3 separate regions of the Homo sapiens genome follow, and all the other regions are linked to region 1. The links come from fine-mapping of genetic effects on plasma protein levels. Region 1 holds a variant in brackets. A gene starts in each other region. All regions are shown on their forward strands. Region 1 overlaps TMEM236 (transmembrane protein 236). Region 2 holds the start of PCDH1 (protocadherin 1). Region 3 holds the start of CNTN2 (contactin 2).

What was found. A credible set is the group of variants that fine-mapping cannot tell apart. PIP is the chance, under the fine-mapping model, that this variant and not a neighbour inherited with it causes the effect. Protein levels are from antibody-based Olink assays in UK Biobank. Linkage for the fine-mapping came from a reference panel and not from the study's own genotypes, which makes the PIPs less certain.
Region 2: PCDH1 starts here. The variant in region 1 is the best candidate, but not a certain one, in a credible set for the plasma level of the PCDH1 protein (UK Biobank, PIP 0.70).
Region 3: CNTN2 starts here. The variant in region 1 is the best candidate, but not a certain one, in a credible set for the plasma level of the CNTN2 protein (UK Biobank, PIP 0.51).

What each region holds. Positions count from the first base shown.
Region 1 is chr10:17,797,624-17,807,499 of GRCh38, forward strand. It overlaps TMEM236 (transmembrane protein 236), which reads left to right. Exons shown (of 4, transcript NM_001098844.3): 4 at 1-3,245. Among named protein-coding and RNA genes, the nearest start is that of MRC1, 6.8 kb to the right of the region's middle. The variant T/C (reference allele first, on the strand shown) is at 6,373.
Region 2 is chr5:141,875,502-141,878,997 of GRCh38, forward strand. It overlaps PCDH1 (protocadherin 1), which reads right to left and starts at 2,909. Exons shown (of 5, transcript NM_032420.5): 1 at 2,722-2,909. The coding sequence starts at 2,761. RefSeq lists enhancers at 1,207-1,891, 2,158-2,907.
Region 3 is chr1:205,037,824-205,049,703 of GRCh38, forward strand. CNTN2 (contactin 2) reads left to right here and starts at 5,389. Exons shown (of 23, transcript NM_005076.5): 1 at 5,389-5,571. RefSeq lists enhancers at 5,083-5,227, 5,175-5,319, 9,386-9,890 and cis regulatory regions at 5,155, 5,247.

The DNA.
Region 1 (9,876 bases):
AGTTTTAGGGGTTCCTTCAAAGGTGGAATTATATTCTTTATTCCATTGTGGCAAGGGACTTTTATTCAATAAATTGATTTCAGCATAAAAAGCAATTCACTTTAACAGATATTTGGCTCAGTTTAAGGCTTAGCTGTATTGCCAGTACTGAAGTACTAATATGAGTGTTGTTTAGTATAATGAAGTCAAGGTACATCAGTAATACCAAGATAAAGTTTCATAATAAAAAGCCATAAAGTGAAGACAGAGATTTCAAAGTAAAAGAATATTTTATTTGTGGAATTTGATACTTTGATAAATAATCAAAGTACAAGCCCTGTTTAAAATTAAAAGTTCGGCTTACAAATATAATAGCCAATGTATCAGTGTCTTATGTGATACTATATCATGGATATATTGATGTTATAAAATAATTAGATACAGAGTCATGCAACTTGCTTTCACCCTGTTGGGACACTCTGAACAGTCAGCACTGTTCATTTGATAGTAATTTTCAGATGCTAGAGAGATTTGTGAGAGGCTGATAATGCAAGAGTAATGATTTATGTAGCCAGTTTCTTCAATGATCTGTGATAACAAATCATTAAGAATGAGACATATGGCTTAAGAATGAAGCTTAAGAATTTGACATATGGCCGGCTGTGGTGGCTCACACGTGTAATCCCAGCACTTTGGGAGGTTGAGGCAGGTAGATCACTGGAGTCCAGGAGTCTGAGACCAGCCTGGGCAACATGGAGAGATTCTACCTCTACAAAAAATACAAAAATTAGCTGGGCATGGTGATCTGCAACTATAGTCCCAGCTACTTAGGAGGCTGGGGCAGGAAGATTGCTTGAGCCCAGGAGGTCAAGGCTACAGTGAGCTATGATCATGCCACTGCACTCCAGACTGGGCAACAGAGTGACACCCATCTAAAAAAAATAAAAGAGAATTTGACGTTGTGTTATTCTACGCTCCACCAAATACCTCTCCCCTTGCCACCCTGTCTCCCTTTCCCTCTGTTTTAGGATTTTTCTCACACTGTAAAAGAAGATTTACTCACAGTTGTTAAAAGCTTGCCTTCCAGCTTTCTAATTTGAGGTAGGTTCTATAACCTCTGTGGGTCCCCGTTTCCACATGTAAAAGATGAACATAATACTAGTACTACATTAATAGGGTTAGGAGGGTTAAAGGGTAAAGAGTCCTTTGAGCACATTTTCTGGCAAACCATAATAACTTGATAAATGCTAAGCATTGGAACGGGTACCAAGTCTCCAAGAAACAAGTATCTCAATGCAGTTTTAGAAATTTCCTGTTTTATTCTTTTCTGTGGCCCTGCTCACCCTCTGGGAATAATCATTTCAACTTTGCATTTGTGAAAAATAATACATACAATCTTAAGGTTACTTCAGACTATACTTTTTCATCGAGGAGTATTGTATTCAAAAGTGATCGATCTGCTGAATATATAAATTAAAATGGACACAAGCCTTCATTCATCAGACATTTGAGTGTCTGTCCTCTGAGTTCCCATAGAATCTGAATTACACCACTTTATTCACACTTACATTATGTGTTTACTTTTCTGAGTGTCCTATTAATCTTTATTCCTTAAAGGAAAGCCTGAGGGCATCTTGTTTAACAATGCATCTCTCTCTTCATCAATCAACGCTGCAGGTGCTTACAAGACTTATAACTTAAAAAAATTATAATACAAGGCTCAGCGCAGTGCCTCAAGTGCCAACAGTTTCGGAGGCCTTGGCAGGCGGATCACTTGAGGCCAAGAGTTCGAGACTAGCCTGGCCAACATGGTGAAACACCGTCTGTACTAAAAATACAAAAATTAGCTGGGTGTGGTGGCACGCGCCTGTAGTCTCAGCTACTTGGGAGGCTGAGGCAGGAGAATCACTTGAACCTGGGAGGCAGAGGTTGCAATGAGCTGAGATTGCGCCATTGCACACCAGCCTGGGTGACAAGAGTCTCAAAAAAAAAATTATAATACAAGTAATTACTTTCGAATTCTGCCATGGGTATCTTTTTATTATTAAGAAAAGCCTGTCATCAAGGGATTCATTTATGATATTCCTAAATATGAAAATATTTTGTGTAAGTATATATTTATCTCCATATTAGAACTTAGCAACAGTGCTCAGATAAACTCAAAAGTATTACTTGAGTTTAGAATGCATTTTGTATCTAATATTTTAATATGAATGTGCCTGATATTTTCGGAAGTCACAACACTATACAAATAATGAAGGCATGTACAGAAGATTATGTGTAGGAGGAAAATTGAGTAGCTAATTTAATTTCATTTAATATTTTACTTAGAGTGTATACATGTTTATAGACTGCAAGTCTATGGGATTTAATAGATATTACAGCAAATTACACTGCGAAAACATTGATAGTTCTACACTGTAATTAAATGTTATATATATTATTAAAATTATTAGGTTGGTGCAAAAGTAATTGAGGTTTTTGCCATTGAAAGTGGTGGTGCATGCCTGTAATCCCAGCTACTCGGGAGGCTGAATCAGAATTGCTTGAACCCGGAGGGCAGAGGTTGCAGTGAGCTGAGATCTCGCCACTATGCTCCAGCCTGGGCAACAGATTGAGACTCTGTCTCAAAAAAAAAAAAAAGTCAAGTACAGTTAGTTAAAGGAATGTGCATTTAAAAATTAATCTATGATTAGGCTATTAATATATAGTCTAATAATTTTATTGCATTATAATTATAAAGTAGTTTTATAATTTTATAAAATTTTATTGATGCTGTAATTTTTATAAAATTTTATTTATTTTATAATTTTACAAAAAATTCTAATACCTGTAATACACTTTTTAGTGCCTTTTCTTTCTAAAAGTTAATGTTTGAAATTACAATGTGTAAATGTTATCTCGTCTTGTTTTTCTTATTAGGGCCCCATTTCACTGAATGACAATTGCAATGAGGCATAGGAAAGAAAAGGGAAATGAAATTGCTTGCTGAAGTCCTACTATGTTCTGGGCACTATGCTGTTTGCCTAATACATAATTGCCTTGTGCTGTGTACCTTGGAGCAGGGCCTTACATAGTGAATATATCAATAGTTGTTCACAAAAAGAGCAATATACCACTTAGAAGCTACAAAACTTAAAAATGGCTACTTATACTCCATAGAAGATATAGTAAATAATAGAAGAAAAAAATGAAATGGCTAAAGACATTTTGTTTTACAATGGGGCTGTTTTTACATGTTAATTAAAATTCTATGTTTAAACAAATCTCTTGTGATGGCTGTTTCATTATGAGAGGATGCATTTGTATTAGTCAGTCCTCTAGAGGGACAGAACTAATAGGATAGATGTATATATGAAAGGGAGTGTATTAAGGAGTATTGACTCACACGATCACAAGGTGAAGTCCCACAGTAGGCCATCTGCAGGCTGAGGAGCAAGGAAGCCAGTCCGAGTCTCAAAACCTCAAAAATACGGAAGCCGACAGTGCAGTCTTCAGTCTGTGGCCAAAGGCCCGAGGGCCCCTGGCAAACCACTGGTGTAGGTCCAAGAGTCCAAAAGCTGAAGAACATGGAGTCCAATGTTGGAGGGAAGGAAGCATCCAGCACAGGAGAAGGATGGAGGCCAGAAGACTCAGCAAGTCTAGTCCTTCCACGTTCCTCTGCCTGCTTTTATCCTAGCTGTGCTGGCAGCTGATGAGATGGTACCCTCCCAGATTGAGGGTGGGTCTGCCTCTCCCCATTCACTGACTCAAATGTTAATCTCCTTTGGCGACACCCTCACAGACACACCCAGGAACAATACTTTGTATTCTTCAATCCGATCAAGTGGACACTGAATATTAACCGTCACAGCTCTTATACAATGTTCAGCTTCCTGGTTGTCTGTCTCACATCCACCTTCTGTGCTCTGTAGTAATCGAATCCAAACACACAAACAGTAGAGTCAGAAGGTGAAAAAATAGAGAAACAGAGAGCCATGTACACCTGCCCACACAGAGACACTGAGAACCAGATCCAACTGCATTCGAAAGGTGTTTCCAATGTTTACAGGTGAGATTAATTAATGAATTCTAAATCATACAGCGCCCCTTCAGGTTGAACAATGCACAACCTCTACATCCCTGAGTACTAGTGATTAATAGCTTTAGTAACCTGAGATATTTGTATTAACAATTATTTACAAGAGCTTTTACATATATTACCATATCCTGAAGATTATTTTTTGGAAATTTCATTAATTTGTCATTTGACAAATTTGAGTGCCTGTTATAGACTAGGTATGGTTTTATATGAATTTGAGGATAATATTTACTAAAGTAACACTTGCTGTGAAAGTGTGCATTTATATATACACACATCTTAATTTCCCAAGATATGCCTATTTTTAATAAGATTATTTTTTATTTTAACTTGTAATTATTCTTATATTGAAATGGAAATAATGGATTTTTAAGGAATGCCTTCTTTCTCTACAAAACTTTTTTCTTTTAAATATTTAACTCAGATACCTTAGAGGTGTTCAGAATATTTGAGTGAATAAATAGAAAATTTGCGTTTCAAATTGCTAAAAATTATACATAATCTTACATAGTAAGTGTTGTTCTGAAGAACCAGCCCAACATTGTTGTGTCTTGGTTTCCATCTGTAAAGTATAGGTCACTTTCAGATTATAAACACATGTTTAATCTTATTCTTAAAATTTGTTTCTGCCGGGCGCAGTGGCTCACGCCAGCACTTTGAGAGGCCGAGGCGGGTGGATCACGAGGTCAGTAGATCGAGACCATCCTGCATGCTGTCTAACACGGTGAAATCCCATCTCTACTAAAAATACAAAAAATTAGCCAGGCGTAGTGGCGGGTGCCTGTAGTCCCAGTTACTGGGGAGGCTGAGGCTGGAGAATGACGTGAACCCAGGAGGCGGAGCTTGTAGTGAGCTGAGACTGCGCCACTGCCCTCCAGCCTGAGTGACAGAGCGACACTCCATCTCAAAAAAAAAAAATTTGTTTCAAAAATTAAATGGGTCAAATAGCCTTTTAATTAAATTACTTTGTAAAATTTAGTATATTAAAACGATGTGTGCCAAGACAAAACCAAATGAAACAAAGTATTGGTTATAGAAATACAAAATTCAAAGGTCCTTCAAATACTATGAATCTACACACTGTTGATTACAATAAGTCTAAATATGTTATCTGAAGACAGTTACAATTAAAGCCTAATTTTATGTAAGTAATTGAATGCAAAGAAATTGGATTGCTATGATATAGTAGTTTTCTATTAAACTGTAAATGCATTGTTGATGTTTTGCTATGGTTTTGGTAAGGACTGAAAAATATGAGGTATAAGAACATCTAAATTTTTAAATTTTTACTCAAAAATATCTTTTTTTTCTTTTGGCTGGTAGGAATTATGTTGATAAGAGTTGAATAAATTTGTTCATTAAAAGATAGGCTTACTGAAAACACCATTTCTGAAGGGCTTACCAGTTTTATCTGTGAGAAATGATGTAACAGGTTATGAAAAATTTTGCCCAGCTATTTTTCTTGGAACTATTTCAGAGCAAAGCAGACACTAAGTTCATCATACGTGAAACTGAGTGGGTAGGAGGTGGCTGGTGTTTGAGAAAGTCTAGGAGGAAATGACACAGTTGATTGTCTTGCCAATAAAAAAATGAGAATTTCCTTTATATTTTAGCTTGAAGAAAGGACTAGTTAAAAATAACCACCATCATCAATAGCTAACCAAAATTCAGAACCAGAACTTAGTAGAAGGGTGTAGACAGGATGGCATGAGTTGGATTTTTAAAAAAGTTTGGTAAAGGATACATAACACAATTATTATTGTAGTCATTTCAACTGTACAATTCAATGGCTCTAAACATATTCACCATGTTGTTTAACTATCACCACTCTGTATTTCCAGAACTTTTCATCATCCAACATCCAATGGGCTCTGTGCCCATTAAACAATAACTCTCCATTCTCCTCCATCCTCCACCTCCCACCCCTTAGTAAACTCTCTTCTTCCTATGTCTCTGAATTTACCTATTCTATATACCTCACATAAGTGGAATCACATAATATTTGTCCGTTTATGTTTGGCTTATTTCACTTAGCAAAATGTTGAAAGGTTGTACATATAGCAGGTATCAGGATTCCTTTTTACGGCTCTATAATATCCCACTGTATGTTCATACCACATTTGTTTATCTGCTAACAGACACCTGAGTTGCTTCTACTTTTTGGCTATCATAAGTAAAACTTCTTTGAACATTGTTGTACAAATATGTGTTTGAGTCCCTAATTTCAGTTCTTCTGGGTATATACCTAGAAGTAGAATTGCTGGATCGTATGATAATTATAGTGTAACTTTGTGAGGCATTGCCAAGCTGTT[T/C]TCCGCAGTGGCTACACCATTTTACATTCCCGCCAGCAATGCCCGAGGGTTCCAATTTCTCATATTCTCACCATCACTTGTTATTTTCTGTTTTTTTAAAGTAATAATTCTTTTGGGTGTGAAATTCTATTTCATTGTAGTTTTGATTTACATTTCCCTAATGACTAATGATGTTGAGCATCTTTACATGTGCTTAGCTTATTGGCCACTTGTATATCTTCTTTGGAGAATTATCTGTTCAGGTCCACCGACCATTTTGTATTTGGTTTTGTTGTGGTTATTGAGTTGTAGTTGTTAATATATTCTGGATATTCATCCCTTAATCAGATATGTGATTTACAGATATTTTCTATTTTGTGCTGTCTTTTCACTTTCTAGATAGTGTACTTTGGTGGACACAGTTTTTAACTGTGATAAAGGCCTTTTTATCTACTTTTTTATTGCTTGTGTTTTTGGTATCCAATCCAAGAAATCATTGTCAAATCCAATGTTGTGAAGATTTTATTTCCTGACGTTTTCTTCTAAGAGTTTTATAGTTTTTAGCTCTTATGTTTAGGCATTTGATCCACTTTGGGTTAATTTTTGTATTTAATGTAAGGTAAGAGTCCAATTTCATTCTCTTTCCTGTGGATGGCCAGTTTTCCCAGCACAAATGCTGTTCTTTCCTCATTGAATGCTTTTGGCACCTTGTTGGAAATCAACTGCCCACATAGGTTTATTTCTGGCCTCTCTATTGTATTCCATTGGCCTATATGGCTATCCTTATGCCTGTACCACACTGTTTAGATTACTGTCATTTTGTAGTATGATTTGAAATCAGGAAGTGTGAATCGTTCAACTTCATTCTTTTTCAAAATTGTTTTGGCTGTGCAGACTCCCATGAAATTCCATATGAACTTTAGGATGGGGTTTTTCATTTCTGCAAAAAAAAAAAATCATTGGGATTTTGATAGGGATTGCATGAATCTATAGATTATATTGGATAATATTGACATCTTAACAATATCAAGTCTTCCATTTCATGAACACAGGGTATCTTTTCATTTATTTAGGTCTTTTTCTTTCAGCAACCATTTGTAGTTTTCAGTGGACAAGTCTTTTGTCTACGTAGTTAAATTTATTCCTAAGTATTTTGTTCTTTTTGATTCTATTGCAAATGGAATTTTCTTAATTTTATTTTCAGATTGTTCATTACAAGTGTATCAAAATTCAACTGATTTTTGTGTTTTGATTTTGTGTCCTGCAACTTTGTTAAATTTGTTAGTGCTACAGTTTGTGTGTGTGGTGTGTATGTGTGTGTGTGTGGCGTGTGTATGTATGTGTGTGTGGTGTGTGTGTGTGGTGTGTATGTGTCTATTGTGTATGTGTATGTGGTATTTGTGTGTGGTGTGTGTGTGTGTGTGTGTGTGTAAGCTTTAGGACTTCCTACATTTAAAATCAGGCCATCTGTGTACAGAGATAATTTCACTTCTTCCTTTTTAATTTGGATGCTTTTATTTATTTTTTTCTTTCCTACATGCTCTTATTAGAACTTCCAGTACTAAGTTGAAGAGAAGTGATGAAAGCAAATAAAAGCACCAATCAGAACACACAGTCCTGACATTTGGAGGGCTAAATCCTTGTTGCCCGGCCTGGCCTCACCTAGCTGCACTGGGCGTGTGGGCTGCTTCCCCCTTCACAGCTGCCTGACACAGCCATAACCACAGGGAGAAGCTGAAATTCGCTGAAATGTACCAGCCTCTTTATCAAGCTCTCCCTTGGATGCTCCAAGTTTCTGACTAGACTAGTTCCCAAATACAGATGGTCCTTGACTTAGGATTGTTAGACATAATGATTTACCCACTTTATGATGATGTGAAATAGAAATGGTGCATTCAGTAGAAAATGTATTTCGAATACCCATACACCCATTCTGCTTCTCACTTTTAGTACCATATCCAATAAATTACGAGATACTCAACACTGTATTATAAAATAGGTTTTGTTAGATGATTTTGAAATAGAAGAGTTCCCTTATGACCCTCGCAGGGGGTGCGACAGGAATGAGGCTTGCTCCTTTGGTGCCCTGCTGCTCAAACCCCTAGGGGGGAGCATGCAGCATGCAGATGGGCAGGTGCAGAGGCTGTGGGGAGTGCTTTTGGGCTCCACCCCACGGCAGCATCTAGGACTCCTGAAGCCCAAGTGGGCGTGTGTTACAGTGTGCTCTTTCAGCTATACCATCTGCAGACAGCTTGTGTTAGTCAGCTCAATAGACCCTCTGCCTTATCACAAGGACAGGGAGGCAGTGTGACAGCCTGAGTTCTTGCCCAGTGTACTGGAAGAATCAGATCACATGTGGGCTGGAGGGTTGAGTGCAAGGTTTTATTGAGTGGTGTAGGTGGCTCTCAGCGAGATGGATGGGGAACTGGAAGTGGGGAGTGGAGTGGGAAGGTGGTCTTCCCCTGGAGCCAGGCTGCCTAACCCCCCAGACTATTCTCCAACCACTGCTGGCCAAACTCCCCTTGGTGTCCAGATGTCCTTCTTCTCTCTTTCTCTGCTGCGCCACCCCACTGCTCTCCACTGCTCTATTCCTTCACTCTTCTCAATGTTTAGCGCTTGTGTCTATGCCCATTAAGGTCTCAGGTTTTTATGGGCACAGGATGCGGGGTGTGGTGAATCATAGTGGTCTTGGAAATGTAACATTTGCGCATGAAAACAGGAGTGCCTGTTCCCACTTAGGTCCGTGGGCACAGGTCCGAGGGTGGAGCCCTCGCCAGGGATCCTGCCCTTCTCTACCTAGCACTTCTCTGCCTCCTGTCCCTATCAATTTTGCCCAGTTGGAAGCTAATGTAAGTGTTCTCAACACGTTTAAGGTAGGCTACGCTGAGCCGTGATGTTTGGTAGGTCAGGTGTATTAAGTGCATTTTTGACTTAGCATATTTCAACTCACATTGGGTTTAACAGGGCCTAATTTGATCATGAGTAGAGGAGCACCTGCAGTTACTTCAGTCAGTTCCTGTCCATTTGATGGCTGCTTAGATGGAGGGATGAATTCCTGGAGTTTCCCACACCACCATCTTCTGTGACATCCCTTCCCCAAGATTTGGATTTATTTTTTGCCCCAGTGGCCTCTTGTAGCCTGATAAATCTTTGTTTCAACGAGGTCAAGGTCATGGGGTAAATTCTTTGTGGGGTGGTTGGCTGCATTTTGTTTAAACTTCACAGATTTTAGTACTGATCCTAATTTTTAATTTTACTAATGTGATATACACACTTATGTAATTAAAAAACAAACCCTGGGCCAGGTATGGTGGCACACGTCTGTAATCCCAGCACTTTCAGAGGCCAAGGCGGGCGGATCACTTGAGGTCAGGGGTTTGAGACCAGCCTGGCCAACATGGTGAAACCCCGTCTATACTAAAAATGCAAAAAATAGCTGGGCATCATGGCACGCGCCTGTAATCCCAGCCACTTGGGAGGCTGAGGTAGGAGAATCGCTTGAACCCGGGAGGTGGAGGTTGCAGT
Region 2 (3,496 bases), not on the chromosome of region 1:
AGCTCCTCCCCCACCCTCGCGGCCCCCTCCTGGCCCTTCAACCCCCTTCTCAGCAATTAGCTTACTATCGCTTGCCCAGCTCCCCTGCAGAAGTAGCCACAGCAGCAGCCCCTCTGCTAAGAAGATGGCAGACCAGCAAGACACCCACTTCCAGCTGAAGTCCCTTTTGGAATTGGGAATTGGAGGTGGGTAGGAGAAGGGGTAAAAACTAAATGCGGCCAGAACTGAATCCAGACTTGCCTCCCTATCACACTGCCTCTGGCTACCTCTGGGGGCCAGTCTGCCTCTCCCCTCGATTCCACCCCATGCCCTAGTCTAGTTGTAATTACAGGTTCCAATTCCCCCAGACCTTAACGTCAATAAAGTAACACCCACCTACTCCCGCGCCCCCCACCCCCTACAAACACAGCTAGACCTCCGGCTTGTCATAAAAACTTTCTGGGCGGCCCCTTCCCTGGCAGCTCCCGAGGGTTGACCCAGAGCAGGTGCTAGAAGCCTCGCGGCGTCTTCCTGCACGAAGCGACCCAAGCAGCCCCAGTCCGCACCGCCTTGGTCAGCGGGCGCTCCCAGCACACACCCAGCGCGCGGAGCGACTCCTCCCAGAGGACGCCGAGTGTGTGTGTGTGTTGCGGAGATTAGGGGGTGGCGGGGGGGACGGCGGCAGTTTCTTGGGCTCTGGCGGCCCCACCCCCACCCCGGCAGCGCCCAGCCTCCAGGAACCCAAGGCAAGGCTAGGGCGCGGCGTGGTGAGAACGCGCTTCGGCTAGTGGGGGGAGCCCTTGCGCCCCCCGCACCCAGGCCACCGCGGGGAATCCCTCCTCCCCGGCATCTCCGGCCTCGGCCTAGGGTCCCCCGCAAGCCGGAGCCGGCGCGAGCGGCGCAGCGGGCGCCAGGAGGGGGCGGGGAGGGAGCCGGCGCCGGAATCACAAAGCCGCGAACCCGGCTAGGCGGGGACATTCTCATAAAACCGACCCTCTCGTGGCGAGCAGAGGGGGTTTTTTGCCCTACGCTCAATCCTCCAAGGCCTCAGTGCCGCCCCCAGTCTTTCCTGGCAGAAGAAATAGTAGCCGACCACTGTTGGGGAAACTGAGGCCAGAATTCTGACTTACAGAGGGTAGCTGGGGGGAAGGGGTGCGAGACCACCTCGCCTACAAATTCTGCTCCTATGCCTGCCGCGATCTCCGTTCTGGCTCCAGGGCCTGCCCGCGCACACACTGGCCTACAGCGGGGACCAGGCGGAGGGGGCGCTCAGGTGTGAGACGAACCCAGGTGTGCGGGACCCACCAAGGTGTGTGGGACCCAGGTGTGCTGGAGACCCAGGTGGCTCAGAAAACTCAGCTAAATGGCTGGAAGAGGGTCGCAATCACCGTCCCAGGCTAGCACCCTCTACAAAGGAACCTGGGGCCCCAGAGCTCCGGGGAGGCGGGATGGCTTGGCCAGCCAGGTCCAGCTTGTTCCCGGAACACCAGCCGGTTCGGCCCGGGAGTGGGGGTTGGGGAGGCGCCGACTGGGAAGCCGGCAGGCCGGCCCAGCCTTCCCGCTGTGCCGATATTTACAATAATAATGTCGCGATTAACGTGGCGGGGCGCTTGGGGCTCGCCGAACGACCCCGGCGGCTTCTCCTGCCTGAATCTGGACTCCGAGAGAGAGGAACGGAGTGTGTGTGTTTGTGTGTATGCGCTGCAGGGTGTAATGTAATGTGACACTGTTGGTTTAAGGTGTGTGTGACACCCAGTGTTAAGATGGGTGAAGCAGTGGATTCTGTGTTTGTGACCGTGAGGCGCTGCTGTAGGTGCCAATTCCTGTGTTAGAGTGTGTGCCATCAAGCGTGTGCTGAGATACTGGGTTGTGTGTTTGTGTGGGTGCAGTAGAGGGGTGCAAGGAGACCTGTGCTGTGTACCTATGTTCTGGCCAAGAAGTGGGTAAGATGATATATGCTAGGGTGTGTTCCTTAAAGGAATGTGGGGGGTGGCTAGGTTTTGAGGGTTCATCTAGTGAACTGTGGCTGTGACACTCGTACATGAGGGCACGAGATTGTGTTTGTGTGTCCACGTCGCGGGGTGTCACACCCGGTTGTGTTATTGCTCTGTAAAGCCACGGGTTGTGTGTCGGTGCTGCTGATCGTGCAGACACTGAAGCGGATTCTGAGCTGGCGACGGTGCCCCAGTGGGCGCTGGTGTGCGGGAGGTATGTCTGTGTGCACATATGCAGGGATGTATGTATGTGTGTATATATGTCCACGGTCTGGCCCTCTGGGTGCCCGCGAGAAGCTGGAAGCGGCTGAGTGAGCCGAGGTAGTTGCCCAACAAGTGTGTATGTATGTGTTGTGGACAACGGTCCTTGCTTGCTCCGTCCTCCGGGAGACCCCCACCAAACTGGGGGCCGCGCGCTTCCCCAAACCCATCCTCCACGCCGCGCGCTCCTGGAGTCTCCTTATCCCCGTCTCTCCGAGCGCGCCCAGGTTTGGGACGCGGGGACTAGGGTTCTGCTCAGCACCCCCTCCCCTCCCTCGGCTTCTCGCCGCGGACCTGGGAGGACGGAATCCCTCAGCCGCATCCCCTGCTATGGGCTCCCAGCAGCCCCCACCTCAGCCCCCTCGCGCCGAGCTCGTGTTGGGCCCCCGCGGCCTCGCTCCGCCGAGCGCCCCTCCCTCAGCTCCCGCCGGCCATGACCGCTTCGGGCCCCAAGCCGCTGCTGCCTCCACCGCCGCCGGATCCTTACCCGCCTCCGGGCAGCGCCGGCCGCCCGCCCCGCTGTCCATGAGCCGCCGCCGGCCCCGGCCTGGGCTGCGGCTCCGCACGGCTGGGGCTGGAGCTGCAGTTCGGGCTCCGGCTCCGGCTCCGGCTGGCTCTGGGCGCAGCAGCCCGGCGGCTTTGCGTCCGCGCCGCGCTCCCGCTCCCCGAGTGTGTGAGGCGGCGGCGGCGGCGGCGGCGGCGGCGGCGGCGGCGGCGGAGCCAGCAGAGAGCGGAGCGCACAGCCCGGCCCGCCCCCTCCCTCCCCCCTCCCTCCCGGCCCGCCCGCCTCCCCGCCCCCCCTCCGGCCGGGAGGTGGAGCTCGGGACCGCTCCGGTCCGGCTGGGAGGGGACCCCGAGCACCGCTCCCCAAAGCCTGGACCCCTCCCTCTGCCATCTCTTCACTGCCCGAGGCCCAGTACACAGGCCGTGCCCTCCTCTGAGCTTCACCTTACACTTATCCCACCCAAGCCTCCATCTAGGACCGCTCCTGGATTCCCCTCCTTACCCTACTCAAACACCTGTCCCCAGCTCTGTCTGCCCCCTGGGAAGTCGAGGCAAGGGAAGTGTCTCCCACAGCGCCTTCTTCCCTGGGCACCTGCTCCTCCATATCCACCCTCTTCCCGCCCAGATCCCCGATCGCCCTGTGTGGCCCTCCCTTCCCGCTGCGCTCGGGGAAAGTCCACCCCTCCCCCTCCGGCCGAAGCCGCAGAGCGGTCAGCCTCGGTGGCCGCAGCAAGCCGTGGGGGTGGGGCTATGGAGGG
Region 3 (11,880 bases), not on the chromosome of region 1:
CTCCCTTCACTGATGCCAGAACCTTGAAATGCCCGCTGCCTCCTCCACTGTCCAACATGTATGTGTACCTCGCCTCGGCTGATCCACGCAGCTCTCTGAAGCAGAGCCTCTCCTCCACTTTACAGATGATGAAATTGAGTCTTAGAAGCCTATGGTCACACAGCCAATCAATAAGGTGGGTGGAATTGGAATCAAGATCTGTCTGACTCCAAGGCCTTCCAACCACTCTGCACTGTCTCCTTCCCGGGGGCACCACTGACATTGTTCTTCATGAAGGAGCTCCCTGTGTAACGCTACACAGCAGCCCCGAGATTCCACATTGACGTGGGCTGATTGAAACTGCTTCCAAGAGGTTGTACATCAGACACCCAGAGATCCTGGAAAACAGGGGTCTGGCCTAAGGCTCAGGGAGGCCTGCAGAATCTAGTAAAGGACTCCAATGTCCCCACCTGCCCCTTCCAGCTCCCATGTTCCATGGCTGCCTATTAGCCACCCCGGGCAGGCTTAGTAAAGGGCAGACAGAGCAAAAGGTTATCGACTCTTCAGCCCAGCCCACTTCCAGGGTCACAGCTGCCCCCAAGACTGTTCTGTCATATCCTCTGGATGGCATGGCTTTTACCGGGACCAAAAGATGTCCCCACCAGGAACGTCCTCCTTAAACCCAGATGACCTGGGGCAGTCAAGGACAGAGCTCCAGGCAGGGAACCCACGCACCCAGTCCTAGCCCAGCCCCACCTCCACTGCTCTGTGACCTTGGCCCAATCATTTCACCTTTCTGGCTTTGCTTTCTTTGTGACTCAATCCCTCTCTACTGTCCTGCCCTCCTGCCCTCCCACCTTCCACACCAGCCAAATTGTTTCATAAAAAAAGAACTCAGGGTTCTTTGAGCTCTTTGGAGAGACCACATAAATGCAGGGCATTATTAGCATCATTACTATTAAATATTAATAATGACATTAGCATCATCTATTATAAGCCTGAAAAAGGAGCTGCAAGAGCCCTGGGTTGAAATGGCAAAGAGAATAATTAGGCCCCTCCAGGCCACAGACCCCTCTGGGCCCTCACATGAAATTAGGAAGGCAAATGCAGACAGGGCATTGAGATCTTCCTTCCAGCACCCCTGCTAGGTCAACTTGGCTTCTCCAGGCATTACACAAATCATGGCCTTCCCAGGCCCCACATCTTGGCTCCTGCCACACCACATGCCCCCATGCCAGAAACACATTCCCCACCTCCTCTCTGTCCATCCAGGCTCAATTCAAGATGCACCCACCCACCCCCACTGAAAGCTTCACCCACATCCTACCTCCCTCTCTCCTCATCCTCTGAATGGTTACTATAGCTACTCTCCTTCATTCATTCACCCAGTCAACAAATATTTATTGAGTCTCCACCATGCACCAGGCACTGTGCTAAACAGGAGGGTGGGGGACTGGGAGAATACGGACTGATGAGATAATCCCTACCTTTTGGACTGCATAGCTGAGGGAATGGCCATCAGTATTTGATATGGCACTTTGCAATTCAAAGTGCTTTTAAAAACCATTATGTTTAATTCACATATCCTCACTACCATCCTAGATAGGAGTAGGATCATTCCTATTTTACTGGTGAAGAAATGGATTATCTGGGCGATTAAGTGTCATTCTGTTACTTGCCCAGAGTCATCCAGGTAGGAGTGACAGAGCTGGGACAGAGTCCAGTTCTCTTGACTACAAATCCAGAGCCACCCCAACCACTTGCAGCCCTTACTGCTCTGCCTCATATCCTTGTTTTACAGATGAGGGAGGCTAAATCCCAAAAGGGAAATACTGACATTTATTGAGCACCTGCTGTGCTAGCTACTTCACGTGTAACTCAACACTCACATCAACTCAGTGAGGTATGTGTCTTCATCCCCATATTCTGGGTGAAGAGGTATGTGGCTTGCCCATGGCCTCACATCTCCTCAGTAGCAGGACTGGGTGTCAAACGGGTCTGTCTGCAGAGCTTTTCCTTATGGCCATATCAGTTTTCCCCAGAGCTGTGGATGGACAGTCCTGTTACCACTGTCACACTGCTTCCAAAAAGGTCACTGGCACTTTGAAGACCGCATCCCCTGGCTCTTGGATCCCTACATTCCAGGCAGAGGAGCTGCTCCATAAATACATGGCCTCCTGGGAAAAGGGTCTGGGCAAAGATGCTGGTGGCGGGAGAGGCCAGGAAAGGAGAGGTGAGGCGGGGGAGTGGTGAGGAAAGAGACAGCAAAGCTGCAGCATCCTGGGGCCATGGCAGGGTCTCATCTCCTCCCCACTTGTCCCCAGGGATGGGGCCTAGAGGTCCCTTCTTGATCGGTTAGAGACCCACTGGATTCCATTGCTATCAATCTTGTGTGGCTACAGTAGGAAGAAGCAGATGGTCTGGGCAGGGTTGGGTGGCCCTCAAAATGCTTTCTGATCCCCACCCACCACCACCAAGGGAGCACCACATGTTTGCGGACAAATTTATAAGCCATTTGACTAGCCACCTGATTATCTTCACTGGCCCTTTCTTGCCCTGTTTGAAAGTCTGTGGGGACTCAACTTTGAGATGTGGAGTCCCAGCTCTGGACAACATGGAGTCATATTGATCAGCCACAGAAAGGAGAGGTGGCCCTTATGGTCAGCTGCACTGAAGATTGTGGGCTCTGGATGTCACCAAAGAAGAAGAAACTGTTCTGCCCCCTATTTTGCCCACCTCAAAAGAACAGACAGTAGGTAGCTGGAGTCCATGGCACGGTGGCTAAGCCAGGATGCTGGAGGCCGATCCCAGGCCTCACTCTGTCATCTAGGCTGGAGTGCAGTGGCACGATCACAGCTCACTGCAGGCTTAACCTCCCAGGCTCAGGTGATCTTTCTACCTCAGCCTCCTAGGTAGCTGGGACTACAGGTGTGCACTGCCACACTGGCTAATTTTTGTGTGTTTTTTGTTGAGACGGGGTTTCGCCACGTTGCCCAGGGTTCCACTTGTTTACTATTTCTTTTGAGCAAGTTCCTTACTCTTACTGAGCAACATCTGAAAAGTGAGGATAATAACAACATGGACCTCTTGCGCAAGTAATTCAGGTAAAGCATTTAGCACAGCTCCCGGCATGTGGGAGGCATTCAAAACAGATATTATTTCTGTTATTATCAAGCTAATGGGCCCCACAAGCAAAACTCAGCCTGCACCCCCAAATGCCCACCCCACTCTCTCCTCAGGAACAGGAGCATCTCAGAGACTGGGAGTGCAGATCCCCCTAATCTCCCCAAACTCATTCATACTAGACTTCACTGAGAGCTTCAGACAAGTGAGAAGATGAGACTTTGGGAACTGTCTCCCCATCCAAGTCTAGGCTTGGCAAATGTTCTTGTTTTCACTTATTGTGTCTGCCAGAGTCCACATGGAGCATGCTGGTTGCATTGAGATCTGAGAGTCTTTAAGACCCAAGTCACCTGTGCTAACGACCCTCCCCAGAGACCCAGCTCCCACCACAGGGCAGCAGCTGTCCTAAAATAGAGTCACAAAGACAGCTGTCTCCGTCTAAAGCAATCCTTGCAAGCATTTCCAGACTGTTGGTTCCTGGGCCAGCCTATTTCCTGGCCCGTCAGCCCCCTGCAGCAGACATAGCATCCTTTTCTTGGCAAGGACTTGTTCCTGCCGTTTTCTGCTAGGAGAGAACTTGCAGAGCCTCTCTTTGGAGCCCAGGCTGACTTGAATGGTGCCAAAGAGCAAGGTTCACCTCAGGAGCTCAGAGCCAATGTGCCAGCCCTCAGACATACAGATAGGCAAGGACAGTGTGGGCAGGGGAAGGAAGGGAAAGATATCCTGGCAAGGGGTTGATGTGTCTGTCTATATAACAGCATTCAACATTATTTAAGAAACATCATTAGCAAAATCCAAGTCCTCCCCATCAGGAACAAAGAAGACTATCTCTCAAGTTGGGCAAGCCCTTTGGAGGGGCTCAGAAGGAAAGGAGGGGAGCGCATGTGGGACCTGGGCAGACATTCCAGCCTTGGAGGCTGAGCAGCAGAACCTCCCCGACTCCTTCTCCTTTTCCAGACCCTCTCATTCTGGCCCAGGTCCCCAGGACCTCCTCCACTCAGGGAGACATGGAGCCATGATCCAGGCTTGACAGGTATAGCCATTTAAAACTGGGAGGCTGGCCTGGCCCTGCCAGCTGTTGCAGCATCTGGACTGCTCACCGGTCTTGCCTGTGCAAGCTGGACAGCAGGCAGATCAGAGGGGGGTGAGACAACAGTGACAGCCTGACAGGGCCGACTGGTGCCGCAGATGGCTGGTCCCTCCGCCTCCGGGCCACAGCCTTCCTGGGCACTCCCCCACGTGACCGGAGCAGGGCAGGAGAAAGGCATCGCTGACAAGGGTGAGCACTTAGAATCTCAGAGCTGGCAGGACTGTGTCCATCTTTAATCCCTTCAGGTACCAGCGAGGCTCAGAGAGGGCAGGGCACCTAGCCAAGCACACACAGCCAGTCGGTTGTGGAGCCCAGAGTATGCTTCAGACACCCAGACCCCTAATCCAGGGAGCTTTTCATGACATCACACTGCTGGTTGCTTAAAAATGGGATTGGATCCAAACGTACTGATGCGTAAAAGTGTCCAAGATCAGTTACACAGTTAAAAGTCTTTGGCCAATCCTACTGTTTTATGTAATCACATTTGTGTGAAATAACCCTACTAACCCATGTAATTGTATACACGAAAATAATAAACCTGGGGGCATGTACTTAGATTTATTAAGAGTAGTGGTTGAGGGACTTTCACTATGTATTTTTAAATGTCCTCTAATATTTAGATATTTTGACAAAAAGCTCAAACTACTTTTGAACAAGGGAAACAATAAAGAGGAACATGGGGTGGACCGGGCAACAGAGACAGCCCCTCCCTGCCACTTGCCCCACACAGCAAGCTGGGATTTCTGATTTGGATCTCTTCCTCGGATAGGGGATTTCTGGGGAAACCAGGAGTTTTGGCTCCATGGGTCTCCAGGGTTTGAGGAGTAAGAGCCACTTTCTTTTCCCTCTTCACCCCGCCCCTCTCCTGCCCCTTCAGCCCTGGGCAGGGGGACTAGAAGTGGGGCTGGGCAGGATCGGGAGGGCAGGCGGGCCAGACAGCGCCCCGCGGCCTGTCCATGAGCGGCCCATGCATTATGGAAGACGCGCGCTGGGCTCGCTCCCTGGTCCTTAAATGACAGCAAATGAGGTAAAGCCAGGAGGGTGGGGACGGAAGTGGGGTGGGAGGGGGGCAGAAGGAAGCCATCTCCAGGGCCCCCGAGCGTTGGCTGAGGACCAGAGCCAGCCAGTGAGCGGAGCCTGGGAGAGGGAGGAGCACATCTTGATGCAGAGATGCTGCAGTGGCTCCGGGCGCGCTCACACACACGCGCCCTCACCCGCCACCGCCGCCGCGGCCGCCGCCGCACCCGGACAGCGAGCGGCTGAGGCCGCCAGGGCCCAAAGGACAGCGGCCCAGACAGGGGCTGGCGGCCCGGCCGGCCCCGGCTCACCGACTCGGGCAGCATCCACCTGCCCCAGCCAACACCCTTCTCTCGCCCCAGGTAGGTGCCAACCGCTTTTGTCTCCTCCAACCCAGGGACTTCCCTGCGTGCTGTTATGGGCCGGGGCTCCCGGCTCAGTTCCTGTAAATATCCCCCTTGTAACTTGGGAGGGAACAGGGACAGGAACACTGGCAGGCTGGGGCCGTTCTGACTTCTCCCCTCAGCCCCAGGGTGGGTGCTGGGGCTCCCCTCCGCCCTGTCTACGTGGGCGGCATCCCGCAGGGCTCTCTCAGGCCGAGCCTGGCCGAAAAGCTGGACCCCAGGAGTGTGTCCAGGAATTCCAGTTGGCCAGCGGGCAGTGGCAGCTGCCTGTGGAGAGGGCAGTTTCTCCTGGGCCGGCCCTGGGCACCCGGTCCAGGACAGGACCAGTCCATACAGCCAGGCCCTGGGCCCTGGCCTGCCCCAGAAGTCCCTGCATGGAATTGAGCCGGAGTCCCCAGTTTTGAGGTCACCCAGGGTCTACCTCTGCAGGGTGACCTCTTTGCAAAGTCTTGCTTCAGCTGGATGGAGAGGGGGGCTGTGGAAGAGAGAGGGGAGAGTGGAGCACAAGTTTGGGCAAGGGCCTGTCCAGGAACTGGGACTCGGGGAGGAGAGTCCTGAGGCCAGTCACATCCCAAAGGGCGAGAGGCTGGGGCTACCGGGCTGAAATTCCTTTCCTTCCCTTCCCCCTCCCAACCTTAGCTTCTCCTCAAATCCCTCCCCCCCATCCTCACTGGTGGGAGGGAAGAATTTGCACAAAGTTTGGCTTTCCAGTAAGGAAAGGGGCTGGGGCCAGAATGGTATGGGGAAGGGAAGGGGCAGAGCTGGGGAGTTCTGGAAAGAGAGGGCAATCCTTCTGCCCAGCACCGTGGGGCTTACATAATGGGCTGGAGGTGGGGGGCAGCCCCAGCCAGTGAGTGTCCAGAGCTGAATCCTGTCACCTTCTCCAAGAGGGTCTCTCAGGTCTGGGAAGCAGCGGGGCATGGAGAAGGCAGTGCCTATGGAAGGGGAGAATCCTGCTGCTACTTGGGGATGGAGACGGGCACCCTCTAGCCCCAGACCCCTGGGGGTTGAGCCTGTGTCCTGGGGGGGGGGGTCCAGTGAGGCCAGGAGGGAGTGGGGTTGTGCATGCCATGGCCCCAGCCCTGGAGAAAGGTGGGTTTCAGCATCTTTTCCCTCTGCTCAGAAGGAGCTGGGAGGAGGAACAGCCCAAGAAACCCAGTGCACAGGTGATGTTCTGGTCTCGTCTGGGCAACAGTTTCGGCCTCCTCTCCCAACCGTCTGGCCAAAGACGCCTCAGCTCACTTAGCCTCCGAGTCTCTCTACCTCCTGGTCCCACTCAGAGGGGCCGGATGAGCCACTGGAGATCGAGTGCAGCAAAAGGTGGGCCACCTGTGGGAGAGGCTGCTGTGATCGCACCTGGACAGGGAGATGGCCTGGAGGTCACAACAGGTGCCCTCACTCCTGGCCTTGGGAGAAGGGAGCTCTCCCCTTAAAGACAGCAGCATCCAAGCCCCTCCCCAGGGTGCCCACCAGTTAACCCCTTTCTAGCCAAGCTGCAGAACCATGGACAGGGCTTTTGCCACAAGGTCAGAGTCCTTCCTAATCTCCCGTGGAAGTCCTCAGCGAATAAGAGGGAGGCAGGAGGTGAGACAGACAGGAAAGGGCCCCTGACCTGATGATGTCAAAGTCACCCAAGGTCCACCTGCCTCACAGGTGCAGAGACCACTGTGCTCACACCATGAGCGGTGAGGGAAGCAGAGGCACACTCCTTATGCAGATGAGTGCCTCAGACTCCAGGAGTCTGCTCTCATTCCCGGCTCTTTCTCTCTTACTCTCCTCCCTTCCTCTACTCCTTCTTTCCTCGCACTCCCTTCTCTCATCGCGTGTACTCCACCGGCTTCAGCCCTCAGCCTCCCGCCGCCACCATTTCCCCTGCCAGATTTCACTCCTTATGCAACTCCATTCCAGCACCTTCTCTGCCAGCAGTTGTTCAAATAGAGACACATGTGGGATGGGCCTCCGAGGAATTGTGCTTAACGGGGTGATTGCACATCTCGTCTCTGGCTGACCAAACTTACTCCTTAGGAGCATGTACATAGACAGGTGTACCCCAAGGCATCCTTTCTGCCTCTAAAGTCACCAGGGAAGCAACGCATTTGGGGTGGTTTGGAGGATGCATGGTGCCCTCTTCAGAAACCTCCTTGAGCCAAACGTTGGTGAGAAAGCGTATTTCAAAGACAATCTCTAAGCCTGAGTGTGGGTGGTATTTGTATTTTTGGAGGGATTCCTAGGGCAGAACCAGGGGGTTGGAGAAGAGGTGATTGATATGCAGGGGAGGAAGAACCAGAGCAAAGAATATGCCAGGGAAGCCAGAGGGACTTAAGTTAGACTGCAGGAGACACTTCCTGGCTAGAAGAGTGAGCCATGAGGAGGTGGGGCAGTCTCCTTTCAGATGACTCTAAGGATGGTGTGGAGAACTGGGGTCTGGTCCAAGGTTAGAGAGTCCTGCCTAGAGGCAAAGGTTGGGCTGGCTGACCCTGTAAATTTCTTCCAACTTCTAGTAATCCTCTTTCAAATGGTAAAAGGTGGATGTGACTCAGGAATCCATAAGAAGGCAGACATCCTTTTCATCCCCTCATGCATGCTGGCCACCCCCTCATCCTTCAGGACTACAACCCCAATCTAAACAAACCACCCAGAGGCTGTTGCTAACCTGGAACATTTATGGGAGTTTCTGTGGGCTCCGTATCCTGACGGTAACCATCCTAGAGTAAGTCCTTTCTTAGTTTGATGATTCCTTGCTACAAGATTAGCCCATGTTTCTTTGTTTACCAAAGAGAATGCAAACAAAAGCAAGGAGTGTGATATTCTCATCCAAAACCTGAACACCTCCCATCCCAGGACACACTCAGGCCCAAACGCATCTCAGTGTCCTTTTTACCTAATGAGACATTCAGTTCACTACGTAGGTGGGGAAGTCAACCCCAGCCCCTCACACACACCCATCTAGTCAAACCTGCTGGGCTTCCTCCAGCCTAAGCCCACATCTTCTCAGTGCCTGCCACCCTGAACACCCTGACCAAGGGGTTCTCCCACCCTGTGCCTGGCTGGAGGGCAGCCTTCCTGCAGTGCTGCCCAAGAGGTGAAGTTAATCTGGACCCCAAATCCAAAGGAAACTAGCTTGAGAGGAGGAGCAGGTTGGACCTCACCCCCACCAGGCTTAAGCTCTGAGCCACCCTGGAGGAAGCTGTCTAGGAACTGGGGGGAGCCTCCTTGCAGCAGAGTTGGGGGACAAGCAGAAATTGCTCTGCTAATGCACGAGGAAATTTTCTTCCTGATTTGCTTTTTCAGAAACAAGTTGAAACCATTGTTCTTACGCCTGGCATCTCAAAAAGGGATCCTTCTAAAGCCCTCACTCACTGCCTCACACCACACACAGAGCAGGGCAGGCAAGTAGGAAAACCTAAGGTCTGGGGGTGGCTGGCTTCTGATCCTGAGCTTCCCAGGAGGATGGAAGCCTCTCTTCTTCTGTCCACTCCCTACTTTAAAGGGTCTCTCTGTTAGAGTAGGTCTCTCTTGCAGGGGCAAAGACTCTAGGCTCAGATCAAGGGCCAGACTCCCCCCTGCCCAATGCTAGAAGATCAAACAAATCCATGAGCCTGGGAGCCACAGCTCTCCCCAGAGGGCACGTCAGCACCAGGGCTGGGCCTCGGGGAAGCAGCTGCAATCACAAAGAGCCTGCAGAGAGAGCTGAGCAGCTCACAGAGGGGACTAAGGAAGGACGGGGCTGCACGACACCCCTGGTCCCCATTGGGGCTGAGGAGGTCCCTATGTCCCCATTTCTGCCCTAAGGATGTCTCCAGCTCAGGGTACCACAGAGACCCCTCAGTCACAATCCTTCACCCCACCCCTGCCAGCTGCAGCCTGGCCTGGCCCGCTGAGATCCTAGCAGCCCTCACCCACGCCACCACAGAGCCCTGTACTGACCAGAGGGGCATGGGGATGGTTCAGACCTTCCTGGAGGATGATGGTGCTGTCCCAGGAGGCAATTCTTGTCTTAGGCAAAGGAAAAGGTACTGATCTTAGATCCCATCAGGCAGGAGGTGAGGGCTGTTGAGAAGGAGTACCTGCTTGGGAGTGCCTGTCCTGGCCGCGTGACCCCCTGAGCACATTGTACCAGGTATAACTCTGGCATGGGGGCTGTGTCCTTGTGCCCTAGTCTGGGGTGCTGTGCTAGTGCTTACCTATGACCATTGCACCTTTGAGGCGTAAGAGGAGGGAGGCACCTGCCCAGGAGATTGTGGGTTTGTCAGTCTCCTAAATACATATGAGTGCCGCCTGGACGTTGTGACTGTATAGAAGTAAGCCAGACAGGCACAGTGGCTGCGGACACACGGCTGTGAGATTTCTCAGTTCTAAGATCTGATCTTTCCTGAGCACTCACTATGAGCCTGTGATGGTGCTGACCTCACAGCAGCCCCATGGGGCGGGTCCTGCCCTTCTCATCCCATTCTTGCAGATGGGAGAGTGAGGCTGGGAGAGGTTAAGTAACGACTGTGATAACCAGGTTATACTAGTTAGTTTTATTAGGGTTATACTAGCTAGACAGCAGCAGGCAGGTTGACTCAATGGCCTGCCCTGTTAACCAGTGTGCTGTTTTATAGGATAGAGGTCAAGCGGGGGCCTGAAGGGCTCCTCAAGTACTTTGTAGGCTGATAATAAATCACTTAGTCTCTGCCCACAGCTGGGCTCTGAACTCCCCTTTGCTACCACCATCCATCGGAAGTTGCCAAATCTCTCATTGCTCTCCAATCTCCATTACTGGGGAGAAGGGGAGACAGATTCAGGGCCAGGAGCTGGGCATCCCAGTAGGGAGAACTCTGGGGTGGAGGGTGTACCTTTTATTTTTTGACTGGCTCCATGCGGGGGGCCTTATCCCAGAAAACCTTGTCGTGTGTTGGAGCCCCACTCATAGCCTTCTGTCCCCCAGCTGTCCCCCAGGCCCTTTGTTTCCTGGGACTGACAATTCAGCCAACTCCCCCTGGTGCCCCCGAACCCCCCAGTGGTCCACTCCCCCATGTGCTGGTGCCTTGCAGGACCAGCCCCTGCTGATGACAGCCTGTGCTTGCCTGTGCCAGTCTGTGCCTGCACCCCTGCACCAGGGCAGCTGGCCTGGGCGAGGCTTGGCTGGCTCAGGGTTCGCAGGGCCAGCTCTGGGCCTGGCATAGCTCCACTCCAGCCTTGCTCCTGACAAAAAGGCCTCCTCCATCCTGGGCATTCTAGAACGCATAATAGGGCAGATGGTATGGGGAGATGACTGATCGGTGAACTCATGAGCGCATTCTAGGCTGCACTCGGGCGGTCGGGGAGCTCTGTAGAGGCAGTAATTTTATTACTGTCTCCCCTGTGCTTAGCACAATGCCTGGCACATGGTCAATAAACACTGTGATGGAAATGGATGCAGGGCAAGACTGGACGCCAACTGCCTCACCTTTAGGGAGGCAAGGAGCTCCAGCCTTTAGCCCAGACTCTGCGTGTGTGTGTGTGTGTGTGTGTGTGTGTGTGTGTGTGTGTGTGTGTGTGTTCACCCAAGGCTGTGGCACACAATGGAGCTCAATATACATCTGATCAGGCTGATGGGTCTGTGGTGCTCCCCCAGGGCAACCCCAGGTGCTCCTGGATCCCAGCCCCTCCCCTGCAGTCTCCTCTAAGGCTGTATGTCTCGATCCCTGGAGGGTACCCAGGATCCCTGGGCCGGATTATTCGTGATTACCCATGGTAATTACTTATGGTAATAGAGATAACAGATAATTCTGACTACTGGAGGTGGAGGCGAAGGATCTATGATGCAAACCTCCTGGTGGGTTTCAGGGAAACAAGGCAAGGGGCTGAGTCCTCACACCCGACACACACACACACACACACACACACACACACACACACACACACAGACATACACACAAAGACCGGACATCATCATACACAGACACATAGACACATACATACATATACACATATATACATATACATATATGTATATCACACATATACACAGGGACATATAGACACAACAGATACCCACAAGCATTACATCCACGCACACTGGGACACAGACGCGCACACACACCCAGCTGTCACCAACACTGCTGTGGGAGCTAGGGACTCCGGGTAGGAATCTGCTCAGAGGCTATCCTGGAGTCTCCAGCCCCTGGTTGTCTGTCTCTGCCTTGCTCTGGCACATTCAGTACAAGTGCCTGGAGCCCAGGCTCCTCCCCAGGCCAGCACCCTGCCCCCAGTGAGCTCCCGGGCCTGACAGGCTGGCAAAGA